2 separate regions of the Homo sapiens genome follow, and region 1 is linked to region 2. The links come from fine-mapping of genetic effects on gene expression. Tissue or cell type: cerebellar hemisphere. Region 2 holds a variant in brackets; the other region holds the start of a gene. All regions are shown on one strand. Distances are from middle to middle.

Region 1 (7,697 bases), 35 kb after region 2:
TAAAATAAGTCGTATGTATCATATCACCCCTCTGCTCAAAATATTCCACTCGTTTCCAATCTCAGGTTAAAACCCAAATGCATAGGTATGCGCTGAAAAGAGTGGAAAATAAAAAAAATAATAATTTTAAAAAACCACCCAAATGCCTGCACAATGGCCTCCTACTACATCTCTGATGTTATCTTCTATCACCCTCCCCCTTGCTCATTTTGATCTAGCTACACTGGTCCTCTTACAGTTCTTCAGTTATATCAAGCACAGTGACACCTCAGTCCTTTGCACTTGCTGTTCCTTCTGCCTAGAACACTCTTCCCTGAGAAACTTTGCTCCTTAATTCCCTTCAGTATCTCCTCAAATGTAATCTTATCAGATAGGCCTTGCCGGACAACCCTGTACAAAATAGCCAGACTCCACCCCACCCCAGTCACTGCCTTCCCTATTCCCCTTACCCTGATTTATTTTCTCCATAGAAAATATTTATTATTATTACCTTATATACATTTACTTAATTTTACTTTCTGCCTCCTTCCTCCCACAAGAATGAAAGTTCCGTCAAGGCAGGAACTCAGTTTTGGTTCACTATTATATCTCCAAAGCTTAAATTATTGCATGACATGTGTAGTAGGTACTCAATAAATATTTGTATATTAAATTAACTGATCTGTCCTTCCCTGCCCCCAACCTATAAACCTGTTTATAATGAGAAACTTTTCTGTCTTCCTATTTGTGTCTTAGCCCCTAGACTGTGTCCTGAACACAGCAAGTATTCAAATAATGTTTGCTATTACGAGGATGCAATCACGACTCTGCAAATCTTCAGTTTGTGCCAGATCTTGGTGTTATACTGGTATTTCACGCTTCTCTTCTAAGCCTCTGAAATTCTCCAGCCCATGATTTGTGGTGATATGGATAGCTAATCTATAGGGCACACCACACAGACCTGCTCTAATAGACAGAGATTCTGTTCAGGTATTTTATGGTAAGTTTGCTTTACTGTGTTCAACCATCTTTCCCCCAGCATCATTCCTAATTCTAGTCAGTTTTGAAAAAGCATTTAGCTATGATCAGAAGCAATCATATGTAGGAAAGAAAAACTCTATTGCCAGACAAGTAAGAATATGGCCTAATGCCTACAGGTAAGTATAATATCATTTAGGAAAGACAGCATATTACCACATAACATGACTGTTTTTAAAAATTAAAAAGTCCTTAGCACAATGAGAAAAACTTTTATGAACCTGGTAGCTAAAACAAGATAAATTACAATAGGCAAATTTCCAAGAACGGAGATGTTTTTCTCCAGCTTCACTGAGTTAAAAAAAAAAATCAGGGCTGGGTGTGGTAGCTCATGTTTGTAATCCCAGCACTTTGGGAGGCTAAAGTGGGCAGATCGCTTGAGACCAGGAGTTCAAGACCAGCCTGGGCAATATGGCAAAATCCCATCTCTACAAAAAATACAAAAGTTAGATTGGTGTTGTGGTGTGCACCTGTAATCCTAGCTACTCAGGAGGTTGAGGTGGGAGGATCTCTTGAGCCTGCGAGGTCGAGGCTGCAGTAAGATGTGACTGCAGCTGCATTCCAGCCTGGGCAATAGAGTGAGAACCCGTCTCTTAAAAAAAAAATCAAATATAATATTACTCACTCATATCTCTGGTTTTAGTTCTTAATCTAATACAGAATGAACAATACAAGATAAAAGGATAAAAGCAAAAGGGGCAGACAAAAATATAATTTCCACAGAAGACTTTGTATCAGCCAACTCCAGATACACAGGAATAGGCAAAGGCACTTTCCTGGGGCCAAGAGAACATGACCCCCTTTGATTTCCTATGGTTGCCTTCTGCCAGTCCTAAAAGAGCTGGCAGGCTGGTATCAAGCAGTGAACATTACAGAAACAGCATAGTAAGAGGTAGATAATTCAGAAATCCCAGCGGTATATTCAAATATAGGTTGCTGGTATGAGGAAAAACAACCTACAATCTTCACAAACCCAAAAGTCAATAACAACTAATTTCTCCTCTCTCTTCCTTATCTCCCTCTGATGCTATCCTCTCCCTTTTCTTGGACTCCTTCTATCGAGATTATACTATAAACTACTCCAAGTAAGAACTATTCAATTAATTTTAACATCCTCCAAATTTCCCTTGCAGTGAGAGAAAATTGAGTCAACACTGGTCTATCCCACATGTATTTATAAAGTAAAAGAATAATAATGTACTTCTAAGGTCACTTCTAAGATTGTACTAAGGCTGCAACAACAGTTCCAAGAGAGTTTAAGCATGCTGCCTCACCCCAGCGCTTGCGGCTCTCCTAGCCCTACCTCGGTCTGCCTTGGTTTCTGTAACCTGGCTGTTCTGTGCAATCACTTGTACATTATAGGTGTGAAAACAGTGAGAGAGGGAAATCAACTCCATGACGGTGGGGCACAGAAAGCGTGAACCATGATTCAGAGCCTTACAGTCAACTGTCATGTGTATGTGTCATACTCAAGGCAATATCCTGCTTCTTGAGGCTCCTTCCTCTTTGCAGCCTGCTGCCTGTGCTGTATGCTATCAGCCCTTTGTGACTCAACTGAGACAGACTAGAGTCAGAAAAGCGGATGGAATTCTTACACAGCATGAAGTAGTATAAGAAATCCTAGGCAGAAGGAAGTTCAGGTAGCTCTCAGGGCTAGGAAACTCCTCGACAACGAGGGACAACCAAATCCAGCATTTAAAAACTCTGTATTTTAATTCTTCTCTTAATATAATACTTCCTTCTTTATTGATTGCTGAGCATTCTAGGAACTAGGATAGGATTATTTGGCCTGAAGGAAAGAATACTTCTCGAACCTGATTTGTTAAATGAATCGAGATTGCTTTAAAGTGAAAGAAGGGAAAAGAGAGTTATCTCTTTTGCAGGAGCACATTTCAATCACTTATCACTCTGGGTTAGCATAAATCAGATAAACTATCCTGTGGGTTGTGCAAAAAGCAAAACAAAACAAAAAAACACAACTTGTAAAAAAAACAGAGCAAGATAACTGAAGTAGACAAACTCTGCACAGAAGTAACTAATGGCAGGGAGGAGAAAAATTTTTGTATATTATATTATACTGTGTATAATATAATGTACCTGTGTATCATTAGAGCTGTTAAATTAAAAAAAAAAAAAAAAAAAAAAGGAAATGGATGCAGAAGCTCTGCCCTCCTGGGGCCAGAAATGGCAATTTCAGTGAACTAGGGCCGACAACCACATCCAAAATTAAATATTTCAAAAGCTTAAAATAAAAAATACTAGAAAAATTATGCAGAGCACCTATTTCATTTGTTAAAAGACATTTAATTAGTGTTTCACATATTACCACCCAAATGAATAAAGCGATTGTGAAATTCAAGAAAACAATCAAACTACAAGAAAACTCCAGATAAAACTACAAAGTTAAACATAAACTTGGCCCAGGACCACTACAGTGGCTGAGGGATGACAAATACAGTTCTTTATATTGGTAACCCTTAGCCATCCATCCCATTCTATAGAAAGAGGACAGTACCATCTTTGACCCCAGGCCCCCTGTCCTGAGGTGCTTCTACTTAATGCCAGGAACAACTGTGCTAGAAAAAAAGACTGCACCCACCCCAGCTCCAGATGCACACATTAGCTGGTCGGTGAGATGCAGCAGCCTGGCTTCCTCCCTCTACCCACTCCTTGGGGGCGGGGCTGGAAGAGGAGAATGATGAAGAGATGTTGGGGGTTCAGGAAACCTTCACATTTGGCCCCTTTTCTCTCTCCCCACTCAGGATGGAAGGTCAAAGTTAGGACCAAAACTAGAGAAGTGGGTTTTGCATAGGGGGACAATGGATTCAACAGAAGTCCTCTGGATCTGGCAACTGTCAAAAAACCCTCTTTCCACTTCTTTCCCCCTCACGGAAAGCCATTAGGAATCACCTCTGTCTGGGTCATAGGAACAGCCACACAGCATAGGAGGCACAAGCCCCGTGAACAAAATTCGGTATTAAGAATAAGGAAAAAGAAAGAAGACCCGAGGGCAAGAGGGCAGGGCAGGACCTCTTCTTTCTACTGGAGAAGAGACATCCAGGGAGGAGGCACAGCCGAGGGGAGCGCAAGCTAGAAAAGCTACGACGGAATCCCCACCGAAACCGCAGCAGGGGTACTGGAAGGGGAGGAATCCGCGACGCAGCGACCGCGAGCCAAGGGCAGCGGCGGGCCGGGCCGTGACTCAGTGAAAGCCGCAACGGCCGGGCCTCGGAAAACGGCGGGCGCGAAGCCGCCGGGGCCGGGGCGAGAACGGCGGCGGGGGCTCACCATGTCCTTGGACGAGCCCAGCTTCTTGAGGCCGTCCAGGGGCAGCAGGTCGGCGGAGTCCTTGTGGATGAACTGCACCGCCTGCTTCATCCGGCGCTGCTGTCGCAGTGACGCCGCCTCCCGCATGTCGGTCTCCTTGCGGCCGCCCTCAGTGAGGAGCCCTGAGTAAAACATCGCTGAGGCGCCGGCGGCCCGGTAGCCCACAGCCCCCCGGCAGCCTCAGCCTCGAGCTCCTCCAGCGCCGCAAGGGCCCCGAGCCGCGCCTTTTATAGCCGAGCGTGACGTCGCGGGGAGCAGCCAGTGCGCGCGCGGGGGGCGGGGCCGGCACAGAGTCCACGCCCCGCGCGGCTCCCTCGCGTCCCGCGTCCCGCGTCCCGCGTCCCCTGCTCACCCGGTGGCAAAGCCGGCGAGGAGGCGGCGGCGCTGGTGGGGACTGACCCGGCAGTCCGAGAATCCACCGCGGCCTTTTCACCCAACCGCCCCCTCCTGCGTGGGGGCCCCGCATCCCCTGGACTGGCGTGGGCTCTGGGGCCCGATGCCCTGGCAGCCCCGGCCATCTCTGCCGCTGGCCGCGGGTACCTGCTCACCTGTCCACGCCGTGGCCGACCCGGGGATCACCGACAGCCGGGCCATGCCTCGAGTCCCGCCGCCCGCGCCGCTGCTCGGCTTCTCAGAAACGCACCTCCACGCCGCCAGCCGGGGCTCCAGGGTCCACCGCCCGGGCCCGGAGGACTGGCGACTCCCTCCGAGGTTGGGAGCGCTCCGGATTTCTCCAACTTCAGGTCGGTCCCCACCCACCGGGCCACGTGACTGGGGAGGGGGCAGCCGGTGCAGGCGTGTGGAGGAGGCTTTCGGGACCTCCTCCCCCGGGCACCCTCTGCCTGCAGCCCGGCACCCGGCCCGCGTTTCCGAGCCGGGGGAGCAGGTGCAGTCGGAAGCCCGCGGGTGGGCGTGGGGCGGGGGAGTGGCGAGGGTCCCCCGCCTCCGCGGGAGCGCACGCGGCTGCGAGCCCTACACCTGCTCTCCGACCAAAGAAGCACCTGTTTTTCTCAATAAGTGCTAGGGCTTACCATCTAAAGGATCGTTCACCATCCCTCCAGCGTCCTTAGTAGGAGCGATTGGAACCCGTTTTTCTTCCTGAATAATCCATACTTTTAAGCCATTCTAATCGGGCCTTCAGGCATCCTGGATTCTGGTCTCGACATTGTGATTTGACACAAATCACGTTTTCACTCTGGAAACCACAACTACTCCCTCCACCCCATCACGCAGGAGCAGACCTGGATAAGAAATATGTGCACTCTGCAAAGAACCAATGATAAAAGTAACAATATCGACGCTTACTGAGCCTTTACTATGTGCCAGGTACTAGACTAGACACTTAAAATGCAGTATCTCATTGGATCCTGGCAACAGCTTGTAAGATAGTATTCTCATCACCCCCATTTTACAGGCAAATACCTGATACCTTCTGTCTGGCCTCCTGAATGCTCCTTGGTTCCATTCCAATACGTTGTTCACTGTGCTGCCAGAGTAATCTTCTCAAACGATAAGTGTGATCATCTCACTTCCCTGCTAAGAGCACCTCAAAAGGCTTCCTATTGCTCTTAGGAGAAACCCACATTCTTGCATGGTCTGCCTAGACCCTGCATATTCACTCTGTACTTCAGCCTCATGGGCCTTCTTCCAGTTCCTTCCAGTCACCTGTTGCCAAATGGCCTGCCTTTGACTGTCCTGTTCCCTCTGTGTGCAGTGCCCCCTCCTACCCTCTTCAGGAAACTCCTATGCTTCTTCCAGACCTCAGCTCCATTATCATTTCTTTAGGAAAGCCTTCTCTGACCTTCCAGAGAGAGTGAAGTCTCTCTAATTATATACTATCTATCTCTTGGGCATTTGACACTTTCTGTGGGGGTAGGGGTAGGGGGGTACTGGTTGTTGGATTAATATTTGTCTCCTCCACTGATTGGAACCTCCAGGAAGGTGACTGAACCCATTTTTTGCTTAGCATTGATGCCCTAATATGCAGAGGGTTCTCAAATACTAGTGAAAGGATGGCAAAAAGTTAAGGTCGTACCAAAGAAATCAAGTGGTAAAGCTGGCATTTACTCCCAGAACCTGTGCTGGACTACCTAGACCTGGAGAGACTGGGTTTGGCCTCATGAAGCTGCTTCTTTTACTCTGTTCTGCCTTCAACACTTGCCCCAGTTTCAAAGACTGTTTGTGGGAAAACAAATACAGAAGGCTGCTCACTTGGCTTCAAGGAAGCCCCAGGGCTGGATTCCTCCCTGTGTGCCCATCCCCTACTTTCCCCTACACACGGAGGACAGAGTCTCTAGGAGACAGGTGGGATTGCTGTTCACCTTCCAGTCCCCTGGCACACTTCCAGCAGTGAACAACAGTGGCTGCCCTGGCCCCTTCTGTCCCATCACCTGGATCCCTGCCTGATCACTCCTCCAGGTGCAGATCACCCAGGGAACAGTGAAAGTCAGCTTTGCCTTGTCCGTCTAGGAGAGGTGCCTCTGAGTTTGGCAAAGCATCAGGGCAGGTCCAACAGTGAGGGCCCCTAGGGCTTGGGCTGGGACAGTGACTTTCCTCAGGGAGGAAGCCAGGCAGGTAGACACTCTCGGGGGGAGTTGGAATCCCCACTCTCCAGGCTGCTCAGCTCAGACCTGCAGCCTTTTTTGCTGAGGATGTCCTGACAGAAGAAAGGGGCTCTTTTCAGAGCTAGATCCCCCTGGGAACACCAGGAAGCTGAATCTCTCTAGTTGAACTGGAATTTGCCCATATCAAGTGTTGCTGAAAAATAAATGGTGCCCGACTGGAACTGGGAATCTTTTTGTGAATTCAGAGCCCTTTGGTGTAGTGGGATTTGTGTTCTGCAGTTGGGTCTGTGGCTGCAATACCTGTTGGTCCCCTCACCTGTCTGAGACCTTCCTTGGACAGACTGATACCATCACTGCCCTCAAGGTTCAGTGTGGTGAGGCCAGCTCCTTCCTCCCCCCACACATTATGAGTATTCGCAGACTACAGACTGCCTGCTTAATTTAAGGAGAGTTATCTCTGGGTGGTTTATCCTGTTTGCCCAAATGACTTTGAGTAAATCACTTCCTACCTCTGAGCCTCAGTTTCCATATCTGTAAAATGGATGTAGTGAGACTGCATATACAATTGTGCTTTGTAAACTCTCTAGGGCTGTACCAACAGAAAAGATTATTATTAATTCTCCATATAGCCAATCAACGTCCCCTGCCTCATTGACCCATCTTGGAGGAAGTAACATACAATATGGTTGTTAAAAACACAGGTTTTGGAGTCTAATACACTAGATTTGAATCCCTGCTCTGCTGCTTACTAGCTATGTGACTAGTTAGTTACTGCACCATTGTGAGCTT
Region 2 (7,202 bases):
GCGAAGGCGTCACCGGGCGCGCCGGGTCAGATGCAAAAAGCATCCGCCCCGGAACCGGTTACCAGTGCGAAGGGCCGGGAGGCTGGGCAGTCCTGGTGCCCGCCTTGGCCTAGCCCCGGCCCCGGGACGGAAGGGGGCCTCTGGGGTGGCAGCCTGGGCCCAGTAGAGCTTTGCATCTCTTGGATATCTTTCCCGGGCGCAGAAGCTGCGGGGCTTAGGGAGTCGCCATTGCGCTGGAAAGTCCTCCCGCCCACGGAGACCCCAGCAAACTCCGAGTGTCACACAGTCGCCTCTGGCGACCCGTGCGGGCCGGAGCCGTTCGCGCACAGGCAGGGCGGGTGCTGAGCGTGGAAACGGGGCTGGAATTGGCCGAGCCATGCCTTTCCGGGATGCCCACCGCCAGTCAAAGGGTTGGGGGTGGTCTCTGCACCTTAAGTACTAACCTGCCGCCCACGCGCCTCCTGACCACAGCACCCCGTCGGCTTTCTAATTCTGTGAGCTGCCCTCGTGGGCGTGGCCTCCCTGTGGAGCTCCCCATGTGCCTCCCCTTGGTCCAGCCTGCAGCTAGGAAGTGGGTCACAGCGACGGGGCTGGGCTGGGCCAGGCCAGGCTCCGGGAGATGTGGAATTGGCGAAACAACTGCCCCAGTAGTATCCTCCGCCTAGGACTCCAAGAGGTGGCGAATTGGGGCACTACGCCCGGGTAAGGCAGTGCCTGTTCAGGGCTGCCGACCTGTCTCCCCAGGGCTGTCATTCTCAGCAAGTACTTTAGGAGTGCCTTAGATCGGCACATTCTCCCATTGAAATATTTTTGTTAGTGGAGACAAGGGAGGTAATGGCAAGGACACGGATCATCACAGCCCCTAGGGATTTGTTGAATGACCTTTGGCAAATCACTTCCCTTCTCTGGGCCTGTAGTTCTTGGCTGAATATGAGGGAATGGATTTCAAATTATGCTCCATGTAATACCCGTGTTTTTACCTCTGTAAACAGATTTTTTTGTTTTTTTTGAGACGGAGTCTCGTTCTGTCCCCCGGGCTGGAGTGCAGTGGCGCGATCTCGGCTCACTGCAACCTCCGCCTCCCGGGTTGACGCCATTCTCCTGCCTCAGCCTCCCTAGTAGGTGGGACTACAGGCGCCCGCCACCACGCCGCCCGGCTAATTTTTTTTTTCTTTTTCTTTTTCTTTTTTTTTTTTTGTATTTTTAGTACAGACAGGGTCTCACTGTGTTAGCCAGGATGGTCTCGATCTCCTGACCTTGTGATCCGCCCGCCTCGGCCTCCCAAATTGCTGGGATTATAGGCGTGAGCCACCGCGCCCGGCCCCAACAGATTTTTAAAGATGGTCTTTTCCCAATTTGTGGAAATGTTTTAACAGAATGCTCTCAATATTTTTCGCCCATGTGATTCTTAGATTCATGTGAATCTAACACAACGTATCTGATACTGTTCCCAACAGGAACCAGGGTGGCAGGGCTAGATGTCCTCTCACCAGACTGCCCAGTGAAGGTGCTGTCACTTTGATGAATTATCAAGGCTTTGTAGTGGGTCTTCTACTGGACAAAGGACAAACTGGAGACTCCCTGGATCAAATGTGTTGGTGAGGCACTGAATCTGATTGCTGAAAGGTGATTCAGCTGCAAGTTAGGCATCAGTTTAGGGTTTTCTAGGCTTGGCATCTAAAGGGAGTGCCTGCTGTAGCTGAAACCTCATAGGCCTTCTCTTCCTTCCGAATTGTTTTCAAGGCCTTGGGGGTACAGAGACTTAGAGAAAATACATAGTTGTGCCTCAGACTGATGGGCCTCATCTGTTTAATGGAGAAACACCAAGCACACTCAGTCTGGGCGGAATTTTAGAGCTCCATAGTATAACCACTATCTAGCTACATGTGGCAATTGAGCATTTGAAATGTGGCTAGACTGAATTGAAATGTG[C/T]TGTATAAAATATACACTTAATTTCAAAGACAATATTTTTAAAATGTAAAATATTTCAGTAATTTAAAAATATGGTTTAAATATTTTAGATATGTTGGGTTAAATAAAATATATTAGTAAAATATTTCACTTGTTTTTTGACCTCTTAAATGTGGCTGCTAGAAAATGTTATAGTGCTGTCAGGAAGTGCTGTTCTGGAATACAGAATGTGGCTGCCGTGAGTGGAGTGTGACTATGAGATAGTCGCCTGACTGGAGACAATGAAGCCTCAGGCCAAGGTAAGAGGGCTGACAAGGAAGAACTGGCACAACTAGAGCCGAATGTTTGGGGGAGGTATATGTCTGCCAAAAAATGAATATAATTTCAGGTGACTCAATAGAAGTGGAGGGATCAGTTTCTCTTGTTCTGCCCTGCTCTTATCTAGGTAACTCTTACTTTTCCTTTAGGTCAGGGTTCTTCTAAGCCAGAAAACCTTCACTGACTTAAGTGCACTCCTTTCTATGTTTGCATAGATCTCTTTCTTAACTTTACCCCATTATAGTAAAATTATGTTTTCACATTTGCCTTTATACCCAAACCTCCACCAAAATATTGTGAGCTCTCTGAGGGTAAGGACTTTGTCTTATTATTGTTATACCTGGAGACAGATTAAAACAATATGATGTTTGTGGGGACCAGGGAAAAGGGGAATGGGAGAGGCTCCTCTGGTTAGTCTAAAAGAAAAGTATCAGGCACCTACTTGAATCCTCATTTGATTTCTTTCTGACCATGAGAGGGGATGCTGAGATGCCCAAAGATGTGCAAATGGCGGGATCCGGCGCACCATAGTAGGCAGGGGAGTGAAGATTTCTCACCTCGGGTCTTCCTAGACCTTCAGGTCACACGGGAATTGTTCTGTTTATAGACGGCGCTGGCCTTAGTACTCACTCTCCCTCTATTTTCCTTGCTTCCTTATAACTAGGTTTCCCTACTCACTTCCTCAAAAAGAGTGATGTAGGTCCACGTGTACCCTCCCAACTGGCCTGGGTCCTCTCCCTTCTTTGTAAGGCCTGAAAAATTCCCTGGTGGGGGATGGTTAGAAAAGGAAGAGGAACCTTCTTTGTAAGTGTGCAAGTCAGAAGGGGAGGGAGAAAAGTGACAATTTATATATCTGGGACAAATATATCTTGGACCCAGGTTTTGCCACCTGTCTGCATCCCCCCATGCCCTTTCCCCTCCAGTGATCAAATAGCTCTCTGGATGCCCCTTAATTCTTCCACCCCATCCATTCTGATCTACCCAGCACTTGCCTAGGCAACACCAGTCCAGGAGAACAAATGGAGTTATGCACAACATTGGTGATTTCCTTGTATTGTGGCTCCAGTGGTTATGGCTGGGGACACACACATCCTTCCAGTTATTTCTGAGCATACTCTGGAAACGTCTTATGAGCCCTCTTCTTTATTGTGTGCACCCACTAGGATGCTCCCTCCTACTCAGCCCTGTTTAGTGGGATTTTTCAGCCCACTGTAAAGCCTACTGCTGCCTGTAAAGCCACCTAAGTGCATCACTTGCTGGTGTTCACCATGATAACAACAATTTATGGGGACAGAATATGTTTCTAGAGCTGCTGGTGCCACTGCTGATGTTACTGGGTTCCCTGAAATAAAACACCACAGTGCAGGTGAGTACCAAAGTGGGGAGAATTTTTAGTTCCTTTTAGAGGTGCTAAATCAATATTGTTGATTTCCCAGTACCTTAGAATATTTAATGAAAACAGGTCAGGTGCAGTGGCTCACGCCTGTAATCCCAGCACTTTGGGAGGCCAAGGCAGGTAGATCACTTGAGGTCAGGAGTTCAAGAACAGCCTGGCCAACATGGTGAAACCCCATCTCTACTAAAAATACAAAAATTAGCAGGGCGTGGTGGCAGGCACCTGTAATCCCAGCTACTCCGGAAGCTGAGGCACCAGAATCGCTTGAACTCAGGAGGCGGAGGTTGTAGTGAGTCGAGATCATGCCACTGCACTCCAGCCTGGGCGCATGGTGGCTCATGCCTATAATCCCAGCACTTTGGGAGGCTGAGGCAGTCAGATCACTTGAGGTCAGGAGTTCAAGAACAGCCTGACCAACATGGTGAAACCCCATCTCTACTAAAAATAGAAAAAGTTAGCCAGGCGTGGTGGCAGGCGCCTGTAATCCCAGCTACTCAGGAGGCTGAGGCATAAGAATCCTTGAACCCAGGAGGCGGAGGTTGCAGTGAGCTGAGATTGCACCATTGCACTCCAGCCTGGGCAACAATAGCGAAACTCCGTCTCAAAACAAACAAACAAACAAAACAAAAAAACTTAATGAATACAGTCCCTCCTAAGATTTTCAAATAAATGAAATACCACATTAATCATATTGTTTTATTTTTATCATTACATTAAAAATCAAATAGTATCACTAGGTTTATAATGAAAAACAGCAGACCCTGTCCCAGCCCTCCACACTCTCAGTTTCTACTCCCTAGATATAATCTCTATTCACCCAGCTACCTCTTCTGGTATTTATCTCCGTATTTCTAAATAGCATGCTTATACTACTAATTCTTAATTTTTCAGTTTGGGCCATTATTTTACTTTTTCTATAGGAAATAAGATATGTGTTTATACTCTGAAGACTGGTAATACACACATGTATTTCTCCATCTTCCATCCTTCAGTTTATCTATATCACCCTATATAGGTAGAGTACTATTCATTATACTATTATAAAGGTATGTAATTGATCCAGTTAGCATAATATGATTATATTTCCTTTATTTTGATTGAAGTTAACTATTGCCTCTTTCTCCATGCAACTTTCTTAAGTACCTAGCATTCAAGTGTCTATAATCAATTTATTCCAAACTGTCCTTTCAAAACATTGAAACACATCAAGTAGTCTATCAATCAGTTTATTTTTTAAATTGGAGACAACTCTCTAGGAGCCCATCATCCTCCTTCACTGTGGACTAGTTTTTCTCTAAGCCTACTGCACAGCTTTTGTCCTGAAATAATTTTATCCTTTCTACCCTGTTTTCCACTTCTTTTTGTTTTTCTGAAAGATTTCCACCTTCCAGCTTTTCTTTTGAATTTTAAAATTTCTGTTATGTTTTAAATTTGCCAGAATACTTTCTTGTCAACCTCTCTTTTAATTAAAAATATTTTTTATTTTTGTAATTTAAAGGTTTATTGTAAATTGACAAGTACAAATTGGATATATTTATGGGGTACAAAGTGATGTTATATGTATACAATGTGGAAAGATTAAATCAAGCTAATTAACATATCCATCACTACAAATACTTCTTTGTGGTGAGAATACTTGACATTTACCTTCAGCAATTTTGAAATATACAGTACATTATTATTAACCATGCTATACTCTTTATCTCAAAAAATGTATTCCCTTTATCTAACTGAAACTTCGTACTCTAACCAACATCTCCTTGTTTCCCCTACCACCCCTTCCCCCTACTCTCTGATAACCATCATTCTACTCTGATTCTGTGAGTTTGTTTTAGATTCTACATTAGGAATCATGTGACTTTGTCTGTCTGTGCCTGGCTTATTCCATTCAGCATAACGTCCTCCAGGGAAGCACTTTCTTGTCCACCCCCTTCCCCTTTTTAAATAGCAGTCTGTTCCATTTGGTGGATGCAGTATCTTATTACTCTAAGAATATTGCTAATGTTTTCTTTTGTTTCTTGAATTGTCTGTGTTGAATTTTTAAGGCTTGTTTCTGTTTTGTGTTGGAAGCTTTTCTTAAACGTCTAGAGATCCTTGGCCATCCATTCATATGTAAGAGTGGGGCACTAGAAAGCCAATAGAAAGTTCTGTGTACACTGGCCAGTGAGGTGGCTCACACCTGTAACCCCAGCACTTTGGAAGGCCAAGGCAGGCAGATCACTTGAGGTCAGGAGTTCAAGACCAGCCTTGCCAACATGGTGAAACCCCATCTCTACTAAAAATACAAAAATTAGCCGGGCTGGTGGCGCACGCCTGTAATCCTTGCTACTTGGGAGGCTGAGGCTTGAGAATCTCTTGAACCCGGGAGGCAGAGGTTGCAGTGAGCTCTCCAGCCTAGGCAACAGACCAAAACTCTGTCTCAAAAAAAAAAAAAGTTCTGTGTACATACTTAGGACTTGTAATTGGTAGGACATACTGCAGTATTTTTCAAACTTCTGGTCGCAAACCCATTAGTAGTTTGTGAAATCAATATAATCAGTTTTATTTCCCCCAAATGACAGAACAGAATAGAAAACACCACCTCAGAATACATCTACATAGAAAGAGAATTATTTTATGAAACTTTGGTTTCTTACACATATCATATATACATATTATGTACTGGTTTGATCCCATAAAATGGGAGTTTTTTTTTTTTATTGTGGGTGTTTCTTCAAAGAAATTTGAAAAAGTACAACTTAGGATAATCAAAGAGATCTCCAACTGTCAGGACAGGTAGGTCTTTTCTCTTAGAGAGGTTAAGTTCCGGCCCAGTGCGGTGGCTCATGCCTGTAATCCCAGCACTTTGGGAGGCTGAGGCGGGCAGATCATGAGGTCGGGAGATTGAGACCATCCTGGCTAACATGGTGAAACCTCATCTCTTCTAAGAATACAAAAAATAAGTCAGGCATGGTGGCACGCGCCTGTAATCCCAGCTACTCGGGAGGCTGAGGCAGGAGAATCATTTGAACTCGGGAGGCGGAGATTGCCACTGCACTCCAGCCTGGGCGACAGAGCAAGACTCCGTCTCAAAAAAAAAAAAAAAAAAACGGAGATAAGTTCTCCTGGAGTAAAATTCTCTAAACTTTTGCCTGCATGCTAGTCTGATAGACAGTACTCATTCATTCAGGTATTGGTTGAGGACTTACTATGTGCCAAACACTGTTCCAGGTTCTGGGTATACATCAGACAAAACTGTCTCCTGGGACTAGATTCTAGTGAGGGAGATAAACAGTGGGTTATATAGTATTTAGATCTTGCGCTAGGTAACACAGCAACAGAAGGGAAAGCTGAACATATGCATATAGATGCTGGTAAGAGGGTGGATGTGGTGGATGAATGAAGTAGAAAACAAGGTCATCATCTGAGAGTGAAAATGGGGAGGAAGTGTTGGAAGAAAAGAGAAGGTGTGAAATAATTTAGGACACAGCACAGCAAACTATAGCCTTTGGTCAAATCCTATTTTGGTGCAATCCACAAGCTAAGGATACTTTTTTACTTTTAAACGGTTGGGAAAAAAATTTAAGATGATATTACA

Which allele goes with the higher level. Positions count from the first base shown, and alleles are read on the strand shown. Sizes are in standard deviations (SD) of each study's normalised expression.
With allele T in place of C in region 2, the expression in cerebellar hemisphere of the gene that starts at base 4,545 in region 1 is higher (large effect, 0.87 SD a copy in GTEx).

The links. PIP is the estimated chance that this variant, and not a neighbour inherited with it, causes the effect.
Region 1: it holds the start of NRIP3, and the variant in region 2 is fine-mapped to the expression of NRIP3 in cerebellar hemisphere (GTEx, PIP 0.99).

The regions. Positions count from the first base shown.
Region 1 is chr11:8,999,457-9,007,153 of GRCh38, forward strand. NRIP3 (nuclear receptor interacting protein 3) reads right to left here and starts at 4,545. Exons shown (of 7, transcript NM_020645.3): 1 at 4,306-4,545. The coding sequence starts at 4,479. NRIP3-DT (NRIP3 divergent transcript) reads left to right here and starts at 4,632. Exons shown (of 3, transcript NR_183663.1): 1 at 4,632-5,087. RefSeq lists an enhancer at 3,722-4,641.
Region 2 is chr11:8,964,447-8,971,648 of GRCh38, forward strand. It overlaps TMEM9B-AS1 (TMEM9B antisense RNA 1), which reads left to right and starts at 229. Exons shown (of 5, transcript NR_073431.1): 1 at 229-702; 2 at 1,458-1,598; 3 at 2,095-2,210; 4 at 3,393-3,595. It also overlaps a transcript of TMEM9B not described here. RefSeq lists a silencer at 1-189. The variant C/T (reference allele first, on the strand shown) is at 1,933.